7 linked regions of the Homo sapiens genome follow. The protein of the gene in region 7 interacts with the protein of the main gene of each other region in a biochemical or structural test. Each region holds a gene or a part of one and is shown on either strand. Other genes may lie near its edges.

Region 1 (3,500 bases), on a different chromosome or scaffold from region 7:
ATCACTTGAGATCAGGAGTTCAAGACCAGCATAGGCAACATGGTGAAACACCATCTCCACCAAAAACAAAAAATTAGCCGGGAGTGGTGGCATGTGCCTGTAGTCCCCAGGTACTCAGGAGGCCGAGGCAGGAGAATCGCTTGAACCCATGAGAAAGAGGTTGCAGTGAGCCAAGATCATGCCACTGCACTCCAGCCTGGGCAAGAGAGTGAGGCTCCATCTCAAAAAAATAAAAAATAAAAGTAGACCAGATGCACGAGTAGGAGCTTTGTGTGAGTTCTGAGCATGTAGAGCGAGTAGAGGGCAGATGTCCATCTAGGCTCTTGGCAAGCCTGGTTCCCAGCAGGGAGTGGTAAGAGTTCAGAAATGATGTCAGGGCAGTAAGAGACTGTATTTGTACCATCATGCCTTACCTATTCAGACATCCTTCTCTTTCCTTTTCAGTCAGTGGTGCCGAAGACCAAAACGGTATGTAGTTGTTTCTGTTTGGGAATGGGCTTAGGCCCTTTTGTCCTTCCCCTCCTTCAACCCCAATCCCTTTAGTAATCTAAGAATTCTGAGCATTTGAGCCCCCAGAGAGAGGGTGTGTGGGAAACTCACTGAGACCCAGGGGGCCTCTCACCATCTTTAGAAATTCTCTCTGCTCGCTGTGCAGGAAGCAGAGTGGAGCATACGTAGGGGCGGACTGACTGATGTGCATGTCCCTGGGCTACCTGAGCTCATAAGCCAACATTTGTAAAACACTGAAACAGAGGAGGGGTGGCATGTATCACACTCAGCTCATTTTTTAAAATCTTGGTGTTTTCAGTTCTGGTCTGGGTAGGGAGGGTCTCTGTGTACACCTTCTGGGGAATCAGGGTGTTTAGCAGCTTCTGGTACTAACCAAAAAGAAAGGGTGGTGACCTGAGACAGCCCTGTTTGTACAGGGCTGGTAATGGTTAGAGCTACTCTGGAGCTAACACATGTGCTACTCTCTGGGCACAAGCTATATATCTCAGCTCAGCTGCCACTCACTTAAAGACCACCACTGGGCCCTCAGGTACTCCCAGAACACACTGCAGAACTCCTGACCATCTGTGGGGACATTCTAAAATATGCTATGTGTTTTCAAAAGCCTCAAGGGTATATGGTTGTGAACTCCCTTCCAAGAGAGAACGTTCTAAGAGTAGTGTTGGACTAGCCTGCAGCATTTTAAAACTTATTTCAGAAGATTTCCCAAATTTATTTAGTAAAATGGCCTTTTGCTCAGAATGGGCAATTTTATGTCTGATTACTTCTAATCAGACATAAAAAACAGTTGAGCTTTTCTCAATTCCCCAAAACCATTTGGAGTTCTAGACCCACCTCCACCCTCCAACCCCCCAGCATCACCGGTACCAAGATCAGGCTGATCTACTTGGTGCTTCCTTTCTTTTTCTGATTCCCTGGGAGAATGCTGACAACTGAGTTAATGTGTTTGTTGTTACTTCTGAGAGAATGAGTAACTGAAAATTATAAATTATTCCCATTCATCTTAGGTATTTGTATAGTCTCCAAACCTCTGTTAGGACCAACAGCACCTCAAAAGAGGCAAATGGGTTTCACTCCCTTTCACACCCAGCCTACCTCCTAGGGGGAAGTATTTCTTGACTTTTTAATAGTCCAGAAAAGAGAAAGTATAGATGCAATAAGGGAGAATTCCTCTATGGGTTGGCCAACCCCCAGATGGTAGAGGTGACTTCTGTGAGATCAGTTCCTTTTTATGGGTACCTACTTCAGGCTACAATTTAAGACATATTGGAGATGGCTGGGCTTTTGAACATTATTTTTTCTGTTTGGGTCAGCTCTACTAGGATACTGGTCATGCCCACTATATTCTGCTAGTGACACAAGCCAGTTAGCATTTATTGAGAACCCTGTGCACTCAGCAGTTGATACTGTCTGGATAGTTTCTACTCTTAGGGCAGTTAGGCAGAAGGCCATTCTAGAGCAGGAGCTGTGGGGCCAGCCTGCCTGGGTTTGAATCCTGGCTCCTCGACTTAGCAGCTTTGTGCCCTTGGGCAAGCCACTTAACTTTTTTGCCCCAGTTGGCCTCATCTATAAAATGAAAATAACAAGAGGTCCTACTTTATAGTTTTTGTGAGGCTTCAGTGAGTTAACACATGCAAAGCTTTCAGGACCCTGCCTGGCACACGGTAAGCATTCAGTAAATGTGGGATGTTGTCATTCCCTTGGGAAGATGTTCATTCATCAGACATTTAGAGTACCTACCATATAACTGGCATTGGGGGCTTCAAAGATGAATATCTAACCTTGGAGCATGGAATAAATGCTAAGCATATAATTGTAAAAATTGATTGAATATGTTGAATTAAAGAGCTCATAGTCTACTCTGGGAGTAAGTAGGCAAACTCAAAATTTTAATCCAATGTGATAAGCAGTCATGGGGGTATAAAAAAGTTTTGTGGGGGTAGAAAGAGGGAGCAGTAATCTCTGCCAAGTTTCTCCACCAGGAAGTTTCCTCAGGAAACCTGGGAGTAGTTTGTGAGATAGCAGAGGGGTCCCCCATGATCCCTGACTTTATTAAATGGAGGATATGTTTATAGATAAAGCCTTGTGATCCTTAATGAACCATTCATCACAGTTCCATTTCTATCTAAACTTTTCTGAACCAGTTTTATCTTTTTAGCCTGTTCTGCCTCAGGGGATAATGAGTCCCTACGTGCCACTCACACACTCACTATATTACAGCCCCAACAGTCTGAAAATTATTTCTTTTAAGCTTTGAGAACTTTGCCTTAGTTCTCATGTTCTGGGATGTGTCTGATCCACAAGTGCTGTGTACTTTTCAAATCTTTACCTGTTGGAGGGGATGAAGTGTGGATTAAACAAGTAACCAGAGTTGGTTATTGAGGAAATGTTTCCTCGGAGGAGCTCTATTTGAGGGAAGCATGTGCACTGAGACTTTGTTTACAATGTACCTGTTATCTCCCACCTCCCTCCCCCAGTCACCCCTATACACTTAAGACATTCTCCTCACTCCTCTGCCCCTTTTTTTCTGCCCTGTGTGTTTGTACAGGGGGAGCAGTACCATCAGGCTTGGAGGAGAACCTGTGTAAGATCTGCATGGACTCACCCATTGACTGTGTTCTTCTGGAGTGTGGCCACATGGTAACCTGTACCAAGTGTGGCAAGCGCATGAATGAATGTCCCATCTGCCGGCAGTATGTAATCCGAGCTGTGCATGTCTTCCGGTCCTGAGAGCTTGCATCGGTTTCTTCAGTGCCTTACAGGGAAATAGCCTGGGGTGTCTGGGCTCAGGGTTGGCCAGCTTGCAGAGGAGCAAGCTAGTAGAAATATTGCAGGGTTCCCAAAACCAGGTCAAGCAAGATGCCATGTCACCCCTGAGCATGCCTGTCTTCCCAGGGGTGTACCTCTTGGCTGGCAAAGCCCAAGGCCAGTGGGAACTTGTATAAATCACATGGGTATGTTCTTGGTTCAGTGATCTTGGAGTGATGATG
Region 2 (2,641 bases), on a different chromosome or scaffold from region 7:
AGTGGCGTGATCTCAGCTCACCGTAACCTCCGCCTCCTGGGTTCAAGAGATTCTCCTGCCTCAGCCCCCAGAGTAGCTGGGATTACAGGCATGTGCCACCACGCCCTGCTAATTTTATATTTTTAGTAGAGATGGGATTTCTCCATGTTGGTCAGGCTGCTCTCAAACTCCTGACCTCAAGTGATCTGCCTGCCTCAGCCTCCCAAAGTACTGGGATTGCAGGCATGAGGCACCGTGCCCAGCCCCATTCACTCTGTTCCTGCTTCTGTTTCTGAGACTTCCCAGATGCATCCACCCTGGGCCTTTGCACTTGCTGTTTGCTTTACCTGGAGGAAACCCTCTGCATCCGCCATACTGCAGGCCTCTCCACCAGCCCTCATCTGCAGTTCCTTCCTAGCCAGACACTTGCAGTTGTCTGGTTCATTTATTGGCTCACTCACTTATTTTTTGAGAGTCTCTTGCCCAGGCTGGAGTGCAGTGGCACAGTCTCGGCTCCCTGCAACCTCTGCCTCCTGTGTTCAAGTGATTCTCCTACCTTAGCCTTCTTGAGTAGATGGGATTACAGGCACGTGCCATCACACCCAGCTAATTTTTGTATTTTAGTAGAGACGGAGTTTCACCATATTGGCCAGGCTGGTCTCGAACTCCAGGCTGGTCTAGAATCACCTGAAGTGATTATAGGTGTGAACCACTGCAGCCAGCCTATTTATGTATTTATTTATTCAAGACAGGGTCTTGCTCTGTTGCCCAGGCTGGAGTTCAGTGGCTTACTGCAGCCTCCGCCTCCTGGGTTCAGTCTTATGCCTCAGCCTGCCAAGTAGCTGGGATTACAGGCGTCTGCCACCACACCTGGCTACTTTTTGTATTCTTAGTAGAGATGGGGGTTCACCATGTTGGCCAGGCTGGACTCGAACTCCTGACCTCAAGTGATCCACCTGCCTCTGCCTCCCAAAGTGCTGGGATTACAGGTGTGAGCCACCGTGCCCGGCTTATTTCTTGGCTCACTTAAAAGCACATCATCAGCTCTTCCAGGGTAGGGCTTGTGTCGACTGCTATGTTGTGTTTGGCCAGAACAGGCTCCTCTGGATATTTGCCTGACTGAATGAAAAAGCAAGGGCTGTGATGACCTGGGGAGAGGAGGGGACCAGGGCTGTGAATTACCTTCCCTTCCCCACCCTCTCCTGCAGCAAATCAGCCGGCACCAGGAGCAGTTCATCCAGATGCTGAACGAGCCCCCTGGGGAGCTGGCGGACATCTCAGATGTGGAGGGGGAGGTGGGCGCCATAGGAGAGGAGGCCCCGCAGATGAACTACATCCAGGTGACGCCGCAGGAGAAAGAAGCTATAGAGAGGGTAAGAGGCCTGGCTGAGGGGTGACTGCAGGTGGGCAGGACCCCTACCCTCTCCTGCTCACACTTAACCTATCTTCCCACAGTTGAAGGCCCTGGGCTTCCCAGAGAGCCTGGTCATCCAGGCCTATTTCGCGTGTGAAAAAAATGAGAACTTGGCTGCCAACTTCCTCCTGAGTCAGAACTTTGATGACGAGTGATGCCAGGAAGCCAGGCCACCGAAGCCCCCACCCTACCCTTATTCCATGAAAGTTTTATAAAAGAAAAAATATATATATATTCATGTTTATTTAAGAAATGGAAAAAAAAATCAAAAATCTTAAAAAAACAAGCAAACAGTCCAGCTTCCTGTCCTCCTAAAGTGGCCCCTGTTCCCATCTCCCGGGCCAGACAGCTGTCCCCCCGTCCTCCTCCCCAGCCCAGCCTGCTCAGAGAAGCTGGCAGGACTGGGAGGCGACAGATGGGCCCCTCTTGGCCTCTGTCCCAGCTCTCTGCAGCCAGACGGAAAGGCGGCTGCTTGCCTCTCCATCCTCCGAAAAACCCCTGAGGACCCCCCCCCATCCTCTTCTAGGATGAGGGGAAGCTGGAGCCCCAACTTTGATCCTCCATTGGAGTGGCCCAAATCTTTCCATCTAGGGCAAGTCCTGAAAGGCCCAAGGCCCCCTCCCCAGTCTGGCCTTGGCCTCCAGCCTGGAGAAGGGCTAACATCAGCTCATTGTCAAGGCCACCCCCACCCCAGAACAGAACCGTGTCTCTGATAAAGGTTTTGAAGTGAATAAAGTTTTAAAAACTAGCCCTATGGTCTGTGCCTGCTGGGGCTCCCCGCGCCCACCTGTCTGGGTCTTGGGGGGCTGGCTGGGCACAGGCAGGCATGGTGACGGGTGCCTGGAAGGGGGAGAGGAGTCTGTGAGTCCCTGCAGATTGAGGCTTCCGGTGTCTCCTCCCCCAGTGTGTCATTTCCAGGCAGTGGACCCCAGCCCAACGTTACAAGGACTGCTTCTCCCCGGCCCCCACCATCATCACCACAGTCTGTTTTGGCTATACTTCCCCCCCCACCAGCCTTGTAATTGGCTAATTACTGGAGATGAATGTTGGTAAACAGAAGCCTTCTTCTCTTCTGCCATCTGCTTCTCCATTATTTGCCCATTGTACACCCCCCTTTTCCTCCCACTGAAGCCCCAGTTAGTCAGCAGGGCCTAGAGTCCCTGTCCCCTTTTGAGTACAGCCAAGTGGGGGATTCCCCAGCTCTTAAGTATTGGGGGAGGAACCAGGGGACCCAGAGAGGCACACCTT
Region 3 (3,500 bases), on a different chromosome or scaffold from region 7:
AGGAGGCATGTGGGTTAGATATTGCAGCACATCAACTTAATCAAAATTTAGAGGACAAGAATAGTAACAACTCATAGAATAAGTCACAACCTGAACATAAACCTGGGTCTGTGTGACTAGTTATACTCCCTGAGCTATAACCACATTCCTACCTTTTGGCCCAGAAGTCCCATTTCTGAAATTTTATCCTGATTAAATAATTGAAAAGTGAAAAACAATCTTGGAGCTGACCAAAACTTTGATCACTTTGACTCATGCTAGCCCACCTAGATGATCACACCCCTCAGCTAGACCACTAGACCACTAGTAATGCTATGAGGCTGCACCAACATCCACAGACAAAATTTTAAAGGCAAATCTTTAGGATGTATCTTTTTAAAAAAATCGCTTAATATTGCCTGTCCTTAATGTCGCCTGAGGGAATATTAAGATCAGTGGGTCAGGAAAAGAGTCACGGCATTCCAGCACTTTGGGAGGCCAAGGCGGGTGGATCACTTAAGGCCAGGAGTTTGAGACCAGCCTGGCCAACATGGTGAAACCCCATCTCTACTAAAAATACAAAAAAATTAGCCGGGCGTGGTGGCGTACGCCTGTAATCCCAGCTACTCCAGAGGCAGAGGCAGGAGAATCACTTGAACCCAGGAAGCGGAGGTTCCAGTGAGCTGAGATTGCACCACTGCACTCCAGCCTGGGTGACAGAGTGAGACTCTGTCTCAAAAAATAATAAATAAATAAATAAATAAATAAATAAATAAATAAATAAATAAAAGAGTCGTGACATTAATTATGGCAAAAGTCAGTATTCACTGAACAACAGAGGTAGAAAGCTAAAATGACAAAAGGGCTTTGTATGTTTTCTGAGACAGGGAAGACAGTTGCACTTCCATTTAATCTGACAGAGATAAATAAGTGACAATCCCAGGCCTCCAGGAGCTTGCAGATGTGGCAGACTGTAATAAAAATGTGGACGGGCTCTGGAAGGTGAAGGGCATTATGCACAGCAGAGGTGAAGACTTTGTACTGGGGAGGAGAACAAGGAGGATAGGGATGGTTCCTTCACATTTGTCCAGTCCACATTCCACTAGAAGCACAAAGCCCTGGCACGGCACACTTGGACCATTGTCAAGTGTCTGTCAGAGAAAAACTCCCCAGCCTTGACCTTAACTAGGGCTATAAGCACTGGCCATTAACTGTGTCCATGGCTGCAGAGATAGTTATAACAATTTACAAGATACCTTACCTTACCAGAAGATGAAGATGAAGAAGAAGAAGAAGGCGGAGAAGGAGAAAAAGAAGGAGAAGGAGAAGTGGGAGGAGAAGCAGTAGAAGTGGAAGAGGTAGAAAATGTTCAAACAGAGTTTCCAGGAGAAGATGAAAACCCAGAAAAAGCTTCAGAGCTCTCTCAGGTGGAGCTGCAGGCTGCCCCTGGGGCACTTCCAGTTTCCTCTCCAGAGCCACCTCCAGCCCTGCCACCTGCTGCGGATGCCCCTGTGACACAGGTAACCCCTCCTGAGTCTCTTTCTACAGGGCACATGGGCGTGTCTCCTTATGGAATAGCCTAAACAATTTACCCTATTCTGCCTTAAGAAAAAGATAACTATATGCCAGACATTCGTATATGGTAGACGAAAGATTTCAGGACAGTCCTCATGTCGGGGAGAAAAGTCCTCTAGGTGATTCAACAGGTTCTTTGTTGTTATTGTTAGTTAACAAAATTTAATACAACTTTCCCACCAGTAATGCCCTCAAATCAAAGGCAATCTTTGTCTGGAAATTGTGTGTGTGTGTGTGTGTGTGTGTGTGTGTGTGTGTGTGTGTCCATGTCTGTGTGTCATGTTAATTCATAGAGAGCTGATATCATGGGGACTGGGTCTGCTCTTTGTTACTTAGTGAATGTATATGTAGGGTATAGGATGAGAAATAAATAGCATACAGAGTAAGAAATAAAAGTGATTATACTTTCAGAACTTTGAATTTTCTGTAGATAATTGAGGGGGTAAATAGAGAAACTACACTAGTTTATGTTCCTGTTGCTTACCCTGAAATACAACTTATGTATTTTTCCTTCAGTGAGCAAACAATGAAGCCTGGTTTTCTATGGATTTGTCATTTGATGAGATTGTGTGTTGACAGAATTGTTTAAAACATATCTTAAGAAATAAGCTCACCCCAGATGCTGCACCTAATTGGTTGACCTCATGTTTCTAATACGTCACCGTCCAGTTTTCAAGCCTTTGTGCAGACTCCATGATACTTCAGCAGACAGGATCCCAACCTTTTGAGTTTGCAGGCAGTGCAGACTCATCAGAGAGGAGTCCTGCTTCTGCAACTGCTTTTGAAGTGGATTGAAACAAAACTCCAGAGGGGGATCTCAGAGATGGAACTGTATTTCTATGCTCTGTCTCCACAGGAAACCAGGCTAAAATGCCATTTATAGTCTAGAATTTTTAAATTCTGAGCATTTCAGTTGTATTAAAATTGAAAGAGGTATAGTAACTAAGTGAGGGTTGGATTTGATCAATAAGATTAATTTTTGTTTTTTATAATGAGGTTTTTGGGACTCACGTATAAAGCCAACAAATTATTCTAGTCAATAGTTTGACCCTTTTCCCATATCTGATATTTTATAACCAACATTCACTGAGGTTTCTGCTCTCTGCCTGCCTGGGCTCCCAGTGAGTGAAAGACAAGCTCAGAAAAGAAGAGGGCACCCATCCAGATGCTGGACAGAGGGGCACTGTAGTCACCATTCTGCCCTTAGCGCTTCTGGAGGGTGGGATGAACTAAAACGGCCACCAAGGCACTGCATGCAGGGAGCGCACAGTGTTCAAACCCAAAGGGAACTAAAATCAACTGCTTTTTCTTCTTCTTCTTCTTTTTTTTTTTCTTTACTTTTGAATTTATCTGTCCTGATTAAGGGGGAGGTTGTACCCACTGGCTCTGAGCAGACCACAGAGTCTGAAACTCCAGTCCCTGCAGCAGCAGAAACTGCGGATCCCTTGTTTTACCCTAGTTGGTATAAAGGCCAAACCCGGAAAGCCACCACCAACCCACCTTGCACCCCAGGGAGCGAAGGTCTGGGGCAAATAGGGCCTCCAGGTTCTGAGGATTCGAATGTACGGAAGGCAGAAGTGGCAGCAGCCGCAGCGAGTGAGAGGGCAGCTGTGAGTGGTAAGGAAACTAGTGCACCTGCAGCTACTTCTCAGGTTAGTGATGATGCACTTGTGTCTATGCTTTCCCGCGCCCCCTAGGGTCCCACTGGAACAGGCCACAGCAAGAAGAAAAAGGGTTTTCAAAGGGGCAGAGAGAAACCTCAGCCAGGGGAAAAGTACAGAAACAATTCATCCCCCAATGTTGGCTTGTTTTGAGCTCTATATAAAAGAAAACATAAAACAAAACAAATTTGAGTTCACTCTCCTGGTGCATGGTGACCTCACACCTGGCTTCCCAGGGGAGGGGTGCAAGTGAGCCTGGCCCTTAGGCATGCTACTGAGCGCTGC
Region 4 (3,500 bases), on a different chromosome or scaffold from region 7:
CTTATAAAATTTTGTATTTTAAAGAGTATCTGCTTTATGAACATTATGCAATTTGGAGAAAAGTTATGAAATAAGATTATTTCACCTTCTCCAGTTAGCTACTTCCATGATGTTATGGACCGTATAGTTGTTACAACTTCTTTTTGTGTACTGAACAGACAAATGAGATTAATATCCTAACCATTAGTCAAAGATGATGATAAACTAAGCTTTTGGTGCCAAGTTTCTGTTGTCAAAGTTCATTTTTATCCTAGTTTTGATGTTTTAAAATAGGGCTGTCTTTGTAATCAATATTTATATACTTTCCTCTTGTATCTAAAGAGGAGTGTTGTTGTCATCAGATGTAGAATGAAGATTTAAATTAGTTGCCTTACACTTGTTTCCGCAATGAAACATTTTATTTTAATGCATCTTTTTAGATATTTGTTGGAACTGACTTTTAAGTTACAAAGTCTATAACTTATTGAGATTTATATTTGGCATGAAGAACCTGACTATAAATGGTCCAGACAGGCAAGACGATGTAATTTGAGAAAAAACTTAGAAATGTTAAGAAACAACCCAGTTGTTGGCCTTGTGACCATAGATGATTGAGTTTTTGAAGTTAGTTGGCCTATCATCTAGTTTCCAGGCAGCATGATTACTGAAAGATTATAAGCAGGCAATCATTCGTTGTTTTAAAGCCCTCCTTAGGTCAGTGAGATCTTGTGGAGGAGACTCATACCTTACTTTGGCAAGTGATACGGTGGAAGTATGGTGCTAGTTACATTTATCAGTGGCTTGTTTTCAAGCTCTGGGATGAATGTGAAGTATGTAAACAAGGCTTAGCCATATAATATTTGTTCTACTACATTTACTATTCAAAACTATTTTCTTTACCATCGTATTGAGCTTTCATTTTAAAAGAATTCATTCTCTTTATGACTCTGAGAGTTATTACCTTCTTCAGCTGTCTTACGGTTTTCCTACAGGAAATAGTTCTTCAAGTAGTTGGTCAACAACTTCCTATTTCTTTATAAGCTGCTGAATAACTTCCTGACTCAGTATTCTATAATATCTCTGGTTTCAAGGAGTGTTTTACTTGCAAGTTTATTTTATTGACTCTGATGCCTTATAACTATTACCATGTTCAAAGATATGTGTTCTTATATATAATGTACCATGTAGGACCTTATAATTTGATTTAAGGAATCTGGATCAGTGATTTTAAAAGTTTGTACATTTGCATTGTTTTAATAATGTTCTAATAATTTTTAAAGCACAGTTTTGTTTCATTTCCATTGTTTATCATTTTCTGAATAACTGGCCACAATGTTTTTAGTCTGCGAAGATTCAAGGTTTTTTGTGGCTGTGATTTGATTAAGTTATATTGAGTAGCTTGGTATACAATTTAAAAAGGATATGTTTTTCAGAGATTTTTGACATTGCATGGCATAAAACTACCCATATTCCTATATTAATTTGCCTTGTAGATGTGATTGATCGCTATACATAGGCTGATTCTTTTTTCTTTCTTTCCTTTTTTTTTTTTTTTTGAGACAGAGTCTTGCTCTGTTGACCAGGCTGGAGTGCAGTGGCACGATCTCAACTCACTGCAACCTCTGCCTCCTGGGTTCGCGTGATTCTCCTGCCCCATCTCTACAAAAATACAAAAATTAGCCGGGTGTGTTGGCGCACACCTATTGTCCCAGCTAATCAGGAGACTGAGGCAGGAGAATTGCTTGAACCTGGCAGGTGGAGGCTGCAGTGAGTTGAGATTGCACCACTCCACACCAGCCTGGGCGACAGAGCCAGACTCTATCTCAAAAAAAAAAAAGACTATGAACATATACAGTGTATGTTGTTATCATATACAGTGTACCTGGTATTTATACATTGTATACAGAACATATACAGTGTATCTTCATAATAAAGATTATGCCTCTTTAAAAGGAAGTTTCATGAAGAATAAGGCTATACTGTTTCTTTCTGTATCAAGTATAACCCAGAGTTTCCCTTTAAAACTGAAAAGCTTGTAATTTTGCCATTAAATGTTAAGTTGCACACGTGCACATGTATACACAAACAAAAAACCAGTTCAAATTGCAATCACGAAGTATTTCCCTATTTGAGGGAAGGCCAGTCTCTGCTTGTTTGTCTTGCTATTGAGGCTGAGTGGAGAGAGAAGATGAAAGTACGCCCTTAGCTCTGGGGGGTGGGGGAGAGCTTACTTCTGCTCAGTGGGTGGGCATCCCAGGGAAGAATGGCACACAGTGCCACAGTGATTTAGGGAGAGAACCCTGGAGAAACTGTATTCACCAGTGGCAGAAGAAAAACAGTTGGAAGATAGTAGATGTGACAGAGTAAATAGAACATAGAGATTAACATATTCCCTGGGAAAAATAATGGAATTTTTTTAGTGTGAACTAAGAAAGAAGTTCACTAGAACTTCTTTGCATTATTTAATTAATTTGCAGCATCATTCAAAGAACAGACTGTCACTTGGTGTGTTTAAAAATTATGATTCTTAGTTCTAGAAAGAATTCTAGAACTATCTCTGGAAGTTTAAATGTAGCAGACTCAATTGACTGCAAGGTGGTAGGCTAATTTTCTTTTTAAAGTCACATTTAAAAAAAAATACCCTTTCCTAAAGCTTTATCTTAGCCATTAAAAAAAAACCCAAACATCTAGATAGCATTTAAATAGTTGAAACTTGGAAAAAAAAAAAACCCAGGTTTTTACAACCCTAAAATAAGTCCTCTTTAGTTATGTAGAGAAATATTTTACTTTGTAGTTAGAAAAATAATGTGAATTCACAGCTTAAAATACTCAGGGTATCATGACTCTGCATTGCCTTGTACCTTAAGGCTTTGAGGGGAGGTAAACTCTAAACTGTTTTATTGCCAAAATATATATAGAAATTTAAGCTTAGGACCAATCAAAGTGAAGTCATTTTAAAAATCAGTTGCTAAGATTTAAGATTATTCAAACTTAATGCTACCCTCTGTAATAGCATAATTTAGCCATTAATTGTGGCTTGAAAGTTTTTAATAATAGCTGAGTAGCATTGTATAAAGGGAGGTCTTAAAGAGCTGTGTCGTTCTATAACTGTGGTTACTAGGTGATGCACTTCTTACAAAAAGGGCTTCTGATTCTAGGATTAATCAGAACTACAAGCCATGAAAGGGACATTGCCGTTTCTATGAAGAAGAATTGCTTCATGGTTCTGGTTGCTCAAGTGCTGTAGCACCAAGTTTCCTGGGAACAAGTACTGCCACCGTGGAAGCACTTTTATTTACGTAGGGCTTGACCCCTTCTAAATGCAAACAAAGAAGTTTGGTTTAAATCACAGCAGTCCTCCCCACCTCCCCTTTAATATTCTAGACAAGGAAAATGGTCAGTATTTAATCCTCATTTTGCTCCTAGCATGAGAAGAATCATAATTTTTAAACACACCAACCAAGTGATAGTCTGTTGTTTCTTTGAATGATGTTGCAAATTAATAAAATAGTGCAAATGGC
Region 5 (3,500 bases), on a different chromosome or scaffold from region 7:
AACTATAAATGTATTCCAGGAAATGTGTATGCTTAACACCTAAATTTAAAAAAGGAATAATAAGCGTGTTTGAGTGTGGTCTGTGTTAGGTTCTAGCCTGGCCAACATGGTGAAACCCAGTCTCTACTAAAAATACAAAAAAATTAGCTGGGCATGGTGGTGCGTGCCTGTAATCCCAGCTACTTGGGAGGCTGAGGCAGGAGAATTGATTGAACCCGGGAGGCAGAGGTTGCAGTGAGCCAAGATTGTGACATTGCACTCCAGCCTGACAACAGAGCGAGACTCTCGTCTCAAAACAAACAAACAAAAAATTAAATAAATTATAAAGGGAATGAAAAAGGACTGATGAGAAAAGTCAAATTCACATAATAATTTAAACATAGCCGGGCGCAGTGGTGGGCATCTGTAATCTCAGGTACTTGGAAGGCTGAAGCAGGAGAATTGCTTGAACCCAGAAGGTGGAGGTTGCAGTGAGCCGAGATGGTGCCACTGCACTCCAGCTTGGGTGACAGAGTGAGACTCCATCTCAAAAAATAAATAAATAATAAAACAAAGGGCCAGGCGCGGTGGCTCACGCCTGTAATCCCAGCACTTTGGGAGGCCGAGGCGGGTGGATCACGAGGCCAGGAGATCGAGACCATCCTGGCTAACACGGTGAAACCCTGTCTGCTAAAAATACAAAAAAAAAAAAAAAAAAAATTAGCCGGGCGTGTTGGCGGGCGCCTGTAGTCCCAGCTAACTCAGGAGGCTGAGGCAGGAGAATGGCGTGAGACTGGGAGGCGGAGCTTGCAATGAGCCGAGATTGCGCCACTGCACTCCAGCCTGCGTGACAGAACCAGACTTCGTCTCAAAACAAAACAGAAAAGTCTACTAAACTAGATTTGTTGGGAGAAGTATAGCAATGTACAAACCTCCACAAAGAACTGTTTTTACTGTAATAGAATACCATCAAAGATAGACCAGAAGATTCAGTTTCTAAACAATATTTAAGAGAAAAAATGGGAAAAATATATATTGGCATTTCTACTATAATTGGCCTTTCTGCTGAACATATGCCCTGACTAGAACAATATATGAGAAATATATGGCAGCTCCGCAAGGGAGCTACCGCAGATAAAGTGATGCCAACAACACTGAAGATATATTATGGAAGAGACTTTTCCTGAAATTTGTTGCATACTGCCTAGACAAAAGAAAATGTTACCCTCTACAAAGACTTGGAAACATCAAATTTATATTAAAGCTATATTAAAGTTTATAGATACTATGATAGATATCCTTATCCTTTAGTCTCCTTTATGCCTTTCGGAATCATTCCAATAACTTGATTATTTTCCTATCATTAAATATTGTATAGTGTATATGCAGGATTTATTTTCAGACTTAAATCTGCTTAGCTAAGCTAATGAAAATGAGAGATTAAGGGAATCCTCTCCTCTACCTGAGGCTAATGAAAATAAGTGAATTTGGTATGACATCATTTAAGGAAAGTCTAACCAGAAAGCAATCGTGAGTAGGACTCTGTGATAGCAGGAAGGAAAACAGTTAGTCCATTTGGCACTTCTAAAACTCATATATGTAACTATCAGTCTAGTTGAGCCTCACAATGCTCTTATGTGTTAATATTAGTAATTTCATTTAACAAAAAGAAACATTAGAGCATAAGACAGTCAAGACATTTAGGTATTCCAAGTCAATCTGTGGACACAATTTGAGAAAATTCCTAAAAAATGAATATTATGAAATTAGATGCCTGACTACTTCAAGGAAGGGATGATTCTACAAAGTTAAATCTATGTTCATATGGAATTGGTACTACTAGAGCAGATACTTTCACAAACTCATTTTATGTATATGTTGATTAGAACCCAAGAATCATCAGAAAAGTCTTCAAAAAATACATATTTAGAAAAAAGAAATACTCAATTCTATTTGCTTAAATCATTTATCTCCCTGACAAATGATCAGGGAGATACAGTTCTTGGAAAAGAAACTATACAAAAGAAGTCTTACGAAATTGTTTTAGGAATGGGATACAAACTGAAAAGTTTGAACAATGTAAATATATTACAAAGGCATGCAAATAAAGTGGAATTTACTGAAAGTCCTGTGATCTCAATATCAGAAATTATCTTTAATCCACTACAATCTAATGACATACTGGATTTAAATACCTTCAGTTTATGGAACCACTCCTGACTGTGTAAAAGGAAATTGGAATAGAAGAATTATGACTAAAGTCCCAAACACCTAAAGTAAAATATTTAATAGTAGTAGAATTAACAAAGTAAAGCCCATAGAACCATGTCCACTACGGAATAAAATTTACCCGTTTTAATAATAATAAAACGTGTAGATGGGTATTTAAAATACTTTTCTTTTTTCTTTTTTGAGACAGAGTCTTGCTCTATTACCCAGGTTGGAGTGCAGTGGCGTGATATCAGCTTACTGCAACTTCAGCCTCTGGGTTTAAGCAAGTCTTGTGCATCAACCTCCCAAGTAGCTGGGACTACAGGCATGCGCCACCACGCCCAGCTAATTTTTCTATTTTTAGTAAACAGGGTTTAGCCATTTTGCCTAGGCTGCTCTTGAACTCCTGGCCTCAAGTGCTCCACCCTTCTCGGCCTCCCAAAGTAGTAGGATTACAGGCGTGAGCCACTGCACCTGGCCTAAAACACTTTTTAAGGTTTCTTTGGAGCTTAGATCTCTCTAATGCCAGATCGTCTCAATGCCAAGGCAAATTTCCTCTTCATCTTTGTAACTTATCACTTAGCACAGTAAAAGTAGCACATACTAGGTACCTAGTAAATGTTTTTTGAATTTTATCGTATTTCATGGAAATCTTGATTTCTGTATTATCATCTTGGTTAAATATTATACAACTATTACAGTAAAAACATAGTTTATTAGTGCTTTAAATGGAATGATTAGTCTTATACTAAGTGTACAAGAAACACTAGTAGCAGACAACTAGAATGTAAGGGGAATGGTGAGGGTTAGAGGAAGATGAAGGAAGTACACAGAATATAGTCATTCTCTAGTTTTTAATAATAAATCATTATATTTAAATGTAAATAAAATCTAATAATCATGAGGCACATGCAAGACTATGTACAGATATCGCTGACATTAATCTCTTAATAACTTTCTTATTAAATACTGTTGTTACCGTCTCACCTTTCTATAGTCTTTAAGCGTAACAGGAACATAGAAGGCCTTGTACCCACAAACTGCTTTGCCCTACACATAAAAGTTTAAAACGTGTGTGTGTGTTGGGGGTGGGTGAGAGGAGAAAATATAACAGCAATAAGCAACAAATGAGTAAAAAAACAAAACAAAACCAATTTAACCTATTATTTCACATGCTGTGGCTTAGAGTGCTTCAGATTCTAAATAACCTATCATTAAAAAATGAACTATTATCTTAAAAGTTCTCCAAATACTAATTTAATAAAAATGACAATCAGTTCAATTTGGAGAAAAGGAAAGAAAACTGTAAA
Region 6 (3,006 bases), about 68 Mb from region 7:
TACAGGCATGCACCACTGTACTCAGCTAATTTTTGTTGTTGTTGTTGTTGTTGTTGTTGTTTTGGTTGAGACAGGGTTTCGCTGTGTTGTCCAGGCTGGTCTGGAACTCCTAGGCTCAAGTGATCCTCCCGCCTCAGTCTCCCAAGGTGTTGGGATTGCAGGTGTGAGCCACCATGCCCAGCCAATTCTAGCATTTTTTAAAAAACTGCTGAGATGATTTCTGGTGTCCTTGAGAATTCTTCAAATTATCTGAATATTAATTTCTAGCATTGATATTTAGAACAAGGTCCTTCTGACTTTTTTTAAGATATCTTTCAGGCTGGGTGCAGTGGCTTACCCCTGTAATCCCAGCACTTTGGGAGGCTGAGGCGGGTGGATCACCTGAGGTTGGGAGTTTGAGACCAGCCTGATCAACATGGAGAAATCCTGTCTCTACTAAAAATACAAAATTAGCCAGGCCTGGTAGCGCATGCCTGTAATCCCAGCTACGTGGGAGGCTGAGGCAGGAGAATTGGTTGAACCTGGGAGGCAGAAGTTGCAGTGAGCCGAGATTGTGCCATTGCACTCCAGCCTGGTCAACAAGAGCGAAACTCCATCTCAAAAATAAATAAATAAATCCTTTCATTGCCGTATCATCTAAAATAATGCCAATATTCTCACTGATTTTGGGGGACTGATGTTGGAAGATGACTCATGGAATTAAGAGGATCAGATGGTTCAAAGAATCTTGCCCTATCAAAGTTGTTTACAGCCTAAAAATATTTGATAAATGAAGGTATGTTCAAAGCCTTCTCATTCTCCAAAGCAGTGCTGCTGAGAATATGCATCTTTTAGAAGGCAGTAGATCCCAAAGACCAACATAGGATGTTTTACCTAGAAGACAAATTGTACATTGGGCTTTAAGGACTCATGAAACCATTGCCTGTTTCAGACGCTGACCGGAAAGGAGATTGAGATTGACATTGAACCTACAGACAAGGTGATGCATGCCCAACTCCTCTTCATGTACTTCTTGCCATGTGTATTTGTTTGCATATGCTTATGAACTTGGTCCTTTTGCTCTCATGCTGTCTGCATAGCCCTTGTTCTTTCCGTTTCCATGGTCCTACCCCTAAGCAGCAGCCCCTGACTACTTGTCTCTCTAAAGGTGGAGCGAATCAAGGAGCGTGTGGAGGAGAAAGAGGGAATCCCCCCACAACAGCAGAGGCTCATCTACAGTGGCAAGCAGATGTGAGTTTGGAGTGAGAATGACAGCATGGCGATCTTATGTGAAGATGAGAAGAGGAGAGGGGGCACGTACTGAGGTGGATCAGGGGTGCCTCTTGTTTTTGGTGCCTAAGACTCTTTGGCAATCTGGTGAAGCCTCTAAGCCCCTTCTCAGAATAAGATTTTTTCAGGCATAAAACAAAATATATAGAATTAAAGGAAAACTAATTATATTGAAATAGTTATTAAAATACTAAAACAAATTTGTGATATAGTAATATATGTACTTTTTTATTAATGCATAAGATCTAATGGTAGGTCTAATATGACCATAATTTTGAAATATTTTCAAGATACCTATAAATGATCATGATAGAAAATAGTTAATTGCTATTGTTAACAAGTTACCTATATTGCTAATACTACTGTGGTTTTTGGGCTATGTTTAAAGTTAGAAGAAATGTTAAATTTCAGTTGGGGGTTAGTAAAAATAAAGATGGGATTTTTTTTCTCATTCAAGTTCACAGACCCCCAAAGAGATCCAGGAAACTCAAGAACTCCTGTTCTGGCCGGGCGCAGTGGCTCACGCCTGTAATCCCAGCACTTTGGGAGGCTGAAGGGGGTGGATCACCTGAGGTCAGGAGTTCGAGACCAGCCTGGCCAACATGGTGAAACCCCATCTTTACTAAAAATACAAAAATTAGCTGGGCGTGGTGGTGGGCGCTTGTAATCCCAGCTACTCAGGAGGCTGAAGCAGGAGAATTGCTTGAACCCAGGAGGTGGAAGTTGCAGTGAGCTGAGATCGTGCCACTGTACTCCAGCCTAGATGACAGAGCGAGACTCTGTCAAAAACAACAACAACAACAACAACAACAACAACAAAAAACTCCTAAGTCTTCTTTTTCTTTTTTTTCTGGCTTCCTTTTCCTGCAGGAATGATGAGAAGACAGCAGCTGATTACAAGATTTTAGGTGGTTCAGTCCTTCACCTGGTGTTGGCTCTGAGAGGAGGAGGTGGTCTTAGGCAGTGATGGACCCTCCATTTTACCTCTTTACCCTGTCGCTCATAATGAGGCATCATATATCCTCTCACTCTCTGGGACACCATAGCCACTGCCCCCTCCCCTGGATGCCCAGTAATGTATGTCTACTGGTGGGAGACTGTGAGGATCCCAGGATTCAGTATTCCTGGCCCAGAGGGCCCTTGCTGGCTACTGGGTGTTAGTTTGCAGTCCTGTGTGCTTCCCTCTCTTATGACTGTGTCCCTGGTTGTCAATAAAATATTTCCTGGCCTCCTGGAATCTTTCTTCTGTTGCACAAGTTGACTGAAATAAAAATGGACCTAATGCTCACTCAGTTATAGCAGGCTGAAGGAATCGGACAGTGGAAGGAATGGTGCTCTTACGGGGATTATCAGACTCTAGGAAAACCTACTTAGTGGTGTGTTGGAACCAGTTCCTAGTGGCTAATGAGAGCCAATTATTGGCACCTTTTTCCAACTCTATTAAGTGACTTCATGTTGGTAGCTTGAAATTGGCCATGGTAGGATTATTTACAGAAACTAGCAAACACTACAGATCAGTTCCTCCCCACAAACTGGTTGTTATACATCTACCAGTGTAGTGCTGACATGGATGGTGAAACCTTCGGAGAGTGAATTCTCTCTTGACTGTGGCTGTACTGGACATTTAGGCCTGGTTGGAGAACGCCTTCAAGGGTTTGGCTGACACTGTACTCTATGGCTGGAATATTACTGAGGACTTTGGGTTCTACACTGTCAGGAGGTTGATAATGCAGAAAG
Region 7 (3,500 bases):
GGCTGAAGTGGGAGAATCGCTTGAACTCAGGAGGCAGAGGTTGCAGTGAGCAGAAATTGTGCCATTGCACTCCAGCCTGGGCAACAGAGCAAGACTCCATCTCAAAAAAAAAAAAAAAAAAAAGCAAGATTGGCCGTGTGCTAGTATTTGTTGAATCTGGGTCATAAACAGGAGTATGCTAGTTTTTCTACTTTTGTATAAATTTGGAGTTTATTATAATAAAAAAGTTAATTTTGAAACTTAAAAGTAAAAAGCACTAATAAGCACTACTTTGAAATTTAACATATAATTAGCCATTAATCTATACTGAATAAAGACTAGAAATATCTCACATTAAGAGGATGTCAGCTGATCAGAATTTTCCTTCATCTACTTCTGAGTTGTGACTTAAAAACAAAACAGAAAAAAAGGTAAATATTTTCTTCATTATACCATCAAATGTAAAATGAGCCAATATTTATAGGTGCTGCTAATATACTGTCAATTATGACTGTAAGATGCTTCTCAATTTCAGAGACATTGAAATGTGAAACTATGTGCATCTCAGAATGGATGAAATACAGCAAATAGTAAGTCAGATTGAGCTATGACTCTGTTTTCTGACCTAGGATCAGTGGGTCTGATTATTTATCTTGTAATCTTTAACATGAAGTTTTCTTTCTCTTTTTTTTTGAGACGAAGTCTCGCTCTTGTCCCCCAGGCTGGAGTGCAATGGCGTTATCTCAGCTCACTGCAACTTCTGCCTCCCAGATTCAAGCGATTCTCCTGTCTGAGCCTCCCAAGTAGCTGGGATTACAGGCACCCACCACCATGCCCGGCTAATTTTTGTATTTTTAGTAGAGATGAGGTTTCACCATGTTGGTCAGGCTGGTCTTGAATTCCTGACCTCAGGTGATCCACCTGCCTTGGCCTCCTAAAATGGTGGGATTACAGACGTAAGCCACCGTGCCCAGCCTTTTATTTTTCTTTAAAAAAAAAAAGTGGGGGACAAAAGTCTGAATGATAGTTACTTGAAAAGAATGTATTTTCATATGGTGGAATTCCTATTTAGCAAGCACTTACAAGGCTGGGCACAAGGTAAGGTTTTAGGAGTTGATCCAGATTTATGGTTTGCATCCATTCCCCTGATGCTAACAGGCTTACAGGACTGCCTGAAGCGGCCATGAGCAGCTAAATGAACTACCACGTCTATTTGGGAATGCGCTCCCATACCTCCAAAGCTGTTTTTCGTACTGATTGGTAGAGGAATTTTGCAGGGTTAATCAGGTAAGCAAGAAGTACATCCAAAGGATCAATTGGCATTCTTCTTGTCTTGTCCTAATTTCATTTTTCTTTTAATAAATGAAATTTTATAAGGTTTCCTTCACTCAGTTTAAAAAATTTATCCAGTATTGGGGCAAGGTTTTTTTGTTTCATGTTATTTGCCGTAAATTTTTATTTTTATTTATATATATATACATATATTTTTGGAGACGGAGTCTCACTCTGTCACCCAGTCTGGAGGGCAGTGGTGCGATCTCGGCTCACTGCAACCTCCACGTCCCGGGTTCAAGCAATTCTCCTGGCTCAGCCTCCCAAGCAGCTGGGACTACAGGCGCACGCTTCCATGCCCAGCTGATTCTTTTGTATTTTTAGTAGAGATGGGGTTTCACTGTGTTGCCCAGGCTGGTCTCGAACTCCTGACCTCAGGCAATCTGCCCGCCTTGGCCTCCCAAACTGCTAGCATCACAGGCGTAAGCCACCGTGCCCGTCCTATTTGCTGTAAATTTTTAAAAAATACATTCAAATATTCACAGGATTCAGGCAGTAACCATTTACAAATAGACAAAATAGCCAAAGCAAATATTAAACATGCTACTTTAACTTGTACCAACTACTTTACTTTTCAAAGTAGGCTTCTCGTCTCTTCCGAAGCTCTTCTGAAGTAAGATTTGTACCTGATGTCTGTGTCATATCTTGAGATATGTTTCTGGAACTACCTGAAAACAAAACACAACACAACAAAAACCAATCACTGTATTTACCAATTCAAGCAACAATATGTTTGTTTATACTCATTTGAGTAAGCCTTTAAAACGTTTTCTCTTTAAGAATATTCTACTCTTCTGGCTGGGCGTGGTGGCTCACACATGTAATCCCAGCACTTTGGGAGGCCAAGGCAGGTGGATCACCTGAGGTCAGGAGTTCAAGACCAGCCTGGCCAAAAGGGCAAAACCCTATCTCTACTAAAAGTACAAAAAATTAGCTGGGCGTGGTGGTAGGCGCCTGTAGTCCCAGCTACTCAGGAGGCTGAGGCAGGAGAATCGCTTGAACCTCGGAGGCAGGGGTTGCAGTGAGCCAAGATCACTGCACTCCAGGCTGGGCGACAGTGAGACTCTGACTCAAAAAAAAAAAAAAAAAAAAAGAAAGAAAAAAAAAAAAGAAAGAAATCTAAAGCTGATTTCTGTCCCTGCTAATCCAGCAGGACTCTATTAATCAAAAATGGGATTGCACACCATATGGAGTACTCAGAGGCATGCATAGAGGCAAGAAAAGTTCAGGATAAAAATAATCTTCCCATTAATGAAATTTCAATTTTATTTAGATATCTAAGGAAATCAACTGATAAATAATTTCATTAGAAAGTAGAAGCAAATACATATGAGTTAGAAAAAAATAAAACAAAAAACCCACTTCAAACTTTTAATTAAGCTACTTTGAGCTATGTCTTAACATTTTTCTTTGCCTAGATTGTCTAGGGGATATGTTTTCGCTTTTCTCTATTGATAGTTTATATCACTAAAAAACTGGGCCCACCAAAGTGGGCTTACGGTTTAAGTTGCATAGCCAATAAATGTTGGGTTTTTGTAAAATCAGTTTATATTCCCTGTCCAGGCCCTTCCATAGTGTCTAATGGCACATATTTATGTAACAGCTGATTTGGATAAGGGTCAACTGATACCCACAAAGATTAAAACCACAATTTACTATTGTGTTAGTACAGTGTTGAAACCAAATAAAATAACCAGGAGTAAAAATATAACTACTCCTAATAAAATATAGGTTGTAAAAAGTGATTTCCATTATAAGAAATCTAAAGGGAAAGCCCACTATATAGCTATTGCTTCTGCAGTAATTGTCAAAACACCTCTAAGAGTACATTAACTTCCATGAAATCTAAGAATAATTGGAATCAATTCTTCAGCAATGAATACAACACACATCAGAATGTCTTTACCTTGCATACTTAGCTGAATAGCCCTGCGGAGATCTGCTTCCTCATCTTCCATGTCAATTTCTTGGCGACTTAGTGCCAGAGCCCTCTGCAAATCCTCCTCATCTTCGTCTAACATTCCTGAGCCATCATTTGCTTCTAACACTCGTTCCAGGTCTGTTTTATGGACTCTAAAGAACAAAAGCACTGGTAATAACTGCAACCAATCTTCTATTTTAGACATAACATAAAGGCATTTGTAATGTAAAGGCTTTAAGTAAGTCAAAACTTAAAATGTTTTCTGGCA

Evidence for each region.
Region 1: of the proteins of ATXN3 (region 7) and RFFL, one has a biochemical effect on the other in vitro, tested with the Homo sapiens proteins (one large-scale study listed by BioGRID).
Region 2: the proteins of ATXN3 (region 7) and RAD23A form a complex in vitro, tested with the Homo sapiens proteins (2 studies listed by BioGRID).
Region 3: of the proteins of ATXN3 (region 7) and TRIM55, one has a biochemical effect on the other in vitro, tested with the Homo sapiens proteins (one large-scale study listed by BioGRID).
Region 4: the proteins of ATXN3 (region 7) and YAP1 form a complex in vitro, tested with the Homo sapiens proteins (one study listed by BioGRID).
Region 5: of the proteins of ATXN3 (region 7) and UBE2W, one has a biochemical effect on the other in vitro, tested with the Homo sapiens proteins (one study listed by BioGRID).
Region 6: the proteins of ATXN3 (region 7) and NEDD8 form a complex in vitro, tested with the Homo sapiens proteins (one study listed by BioGRID).

The regions. Positions count from the first base shown.
Region 1 is NC_000017.11:35,011,708-35,015,207, reverse strand, and holds part of RFFL (E3 ubiquitin-protein ligase rififylin), read left to right. Parts: intron 1-444; coding exon 445-468; intron 469-3,058; coding exon 3,059-3,240; 3' UTR 3,241-3,500.
Region 2 is NC_000019.10:12,951,502-12,954,142, forward strand, and holds the end of RAD23A (UV excision repair protein RAD23 homolog A), read left to right. Parts: intron 1-1,187; coding exon 1,188-1,352; intron 1,353-1,434; coding exon 1,435-1,548; 3' UTR 1,549-2,141; downstream 2,142-2,641. UniProt on the Homo sapiens protein: Multiubiquitin chain receptor involved in modulation of proteasomal degradation. Binds to 'Lys-48'-linked polyubiquitin chains in a length-dependent manner and with a lower affinity to 'Lys-63'-linked polyubiquitin chains.
Region 3 is NC_000008.11:66,151,129-66,154,628, forward strand, and holds part of TRIM55 (tripartite motif-containing protein 55), read left to right. Parts: intron 1-1,248; coding exon 1,249-1,499; intron 1,500-2,918; coding exon 2,919-3,206; intron 3,207-3,500. UniProt on the Homo sapiens protein: E3 ubiquitin ligase that plays an important role in regulating cardiac development and contractility, muscle growth, metabolism, and fiber-type differentiation.
Region 4 is NC_000011.10:102,116,947-102,120,446, forward strand, and holds part of YAP1 (transcriptional coactivator YAP1), read left to right. Parts: intron 1-3,500. UniProt on the Homo sapiens protein: Transcriptional regulator with dual roles as a coactivator and corepressor. Critical downstream regulatory target in the Hippo signaling pathway, crucial for organ size control and tumor suppression by restricting proliferation and promoting apoptosis.
Region 5 is NC_000008.11:73,805,863-73,809,362, forward strand, and holds part of UBE2W (ubiquitin-conjugating enzyme E2 W), read right to left. Parts: intron 1-3,500. UniProt on the Homo sapiens protein: Accepts ubiquitin from the E1 complex and catalyzes its covalent attachment to other proteins.
Region 6 is NC_000014.9:24,216,357-24,219,362, reverse strand, and holds the end of NEDD8 (ubiquitin-like protein NEDD8), read left to right. Parts: intron 1-931; coding exon 932-979; intron 980-1,147; coding exon 1,148-1,230; intron 1,231-2,139; coding exon 2,140-2,236; 3' UTR 2,237-2,506; downstream 2,507-3,006. Other genes in the region: NEDD8-MDP1 protein, read left to right, coding at 932-979, 1,148-1,230. UniProt on the Homo sapiens protein: Ubiquitin-like protein which plays an important role in cell cycle control and embryogenesis via its conjugation to a limited number of cellular proteins, such as cullins or p53/TP53.
Region 7 is NC_000014.9:92,079,083-92,082,582, forward strand, and holds part of ATXN3 (ataxin-3 reference isoform), read right to left. Parts: intron 3,385-3,500; coding exon 3,218-3,384; intron 1,980-3,217; coding exon 1,883-1,979; exon of another isoform or gene 1,871-1,882; intron 387-1,870; exon of another isoform or gene 333-386; intron 1-332. UniProt on the Homo sapiens protein: Deubiquitinating enzyme involved in protein homeostasis maintenance, transcription, cytoskeleton regulation, myogenesis and degradation of misfolded chaperone substrates.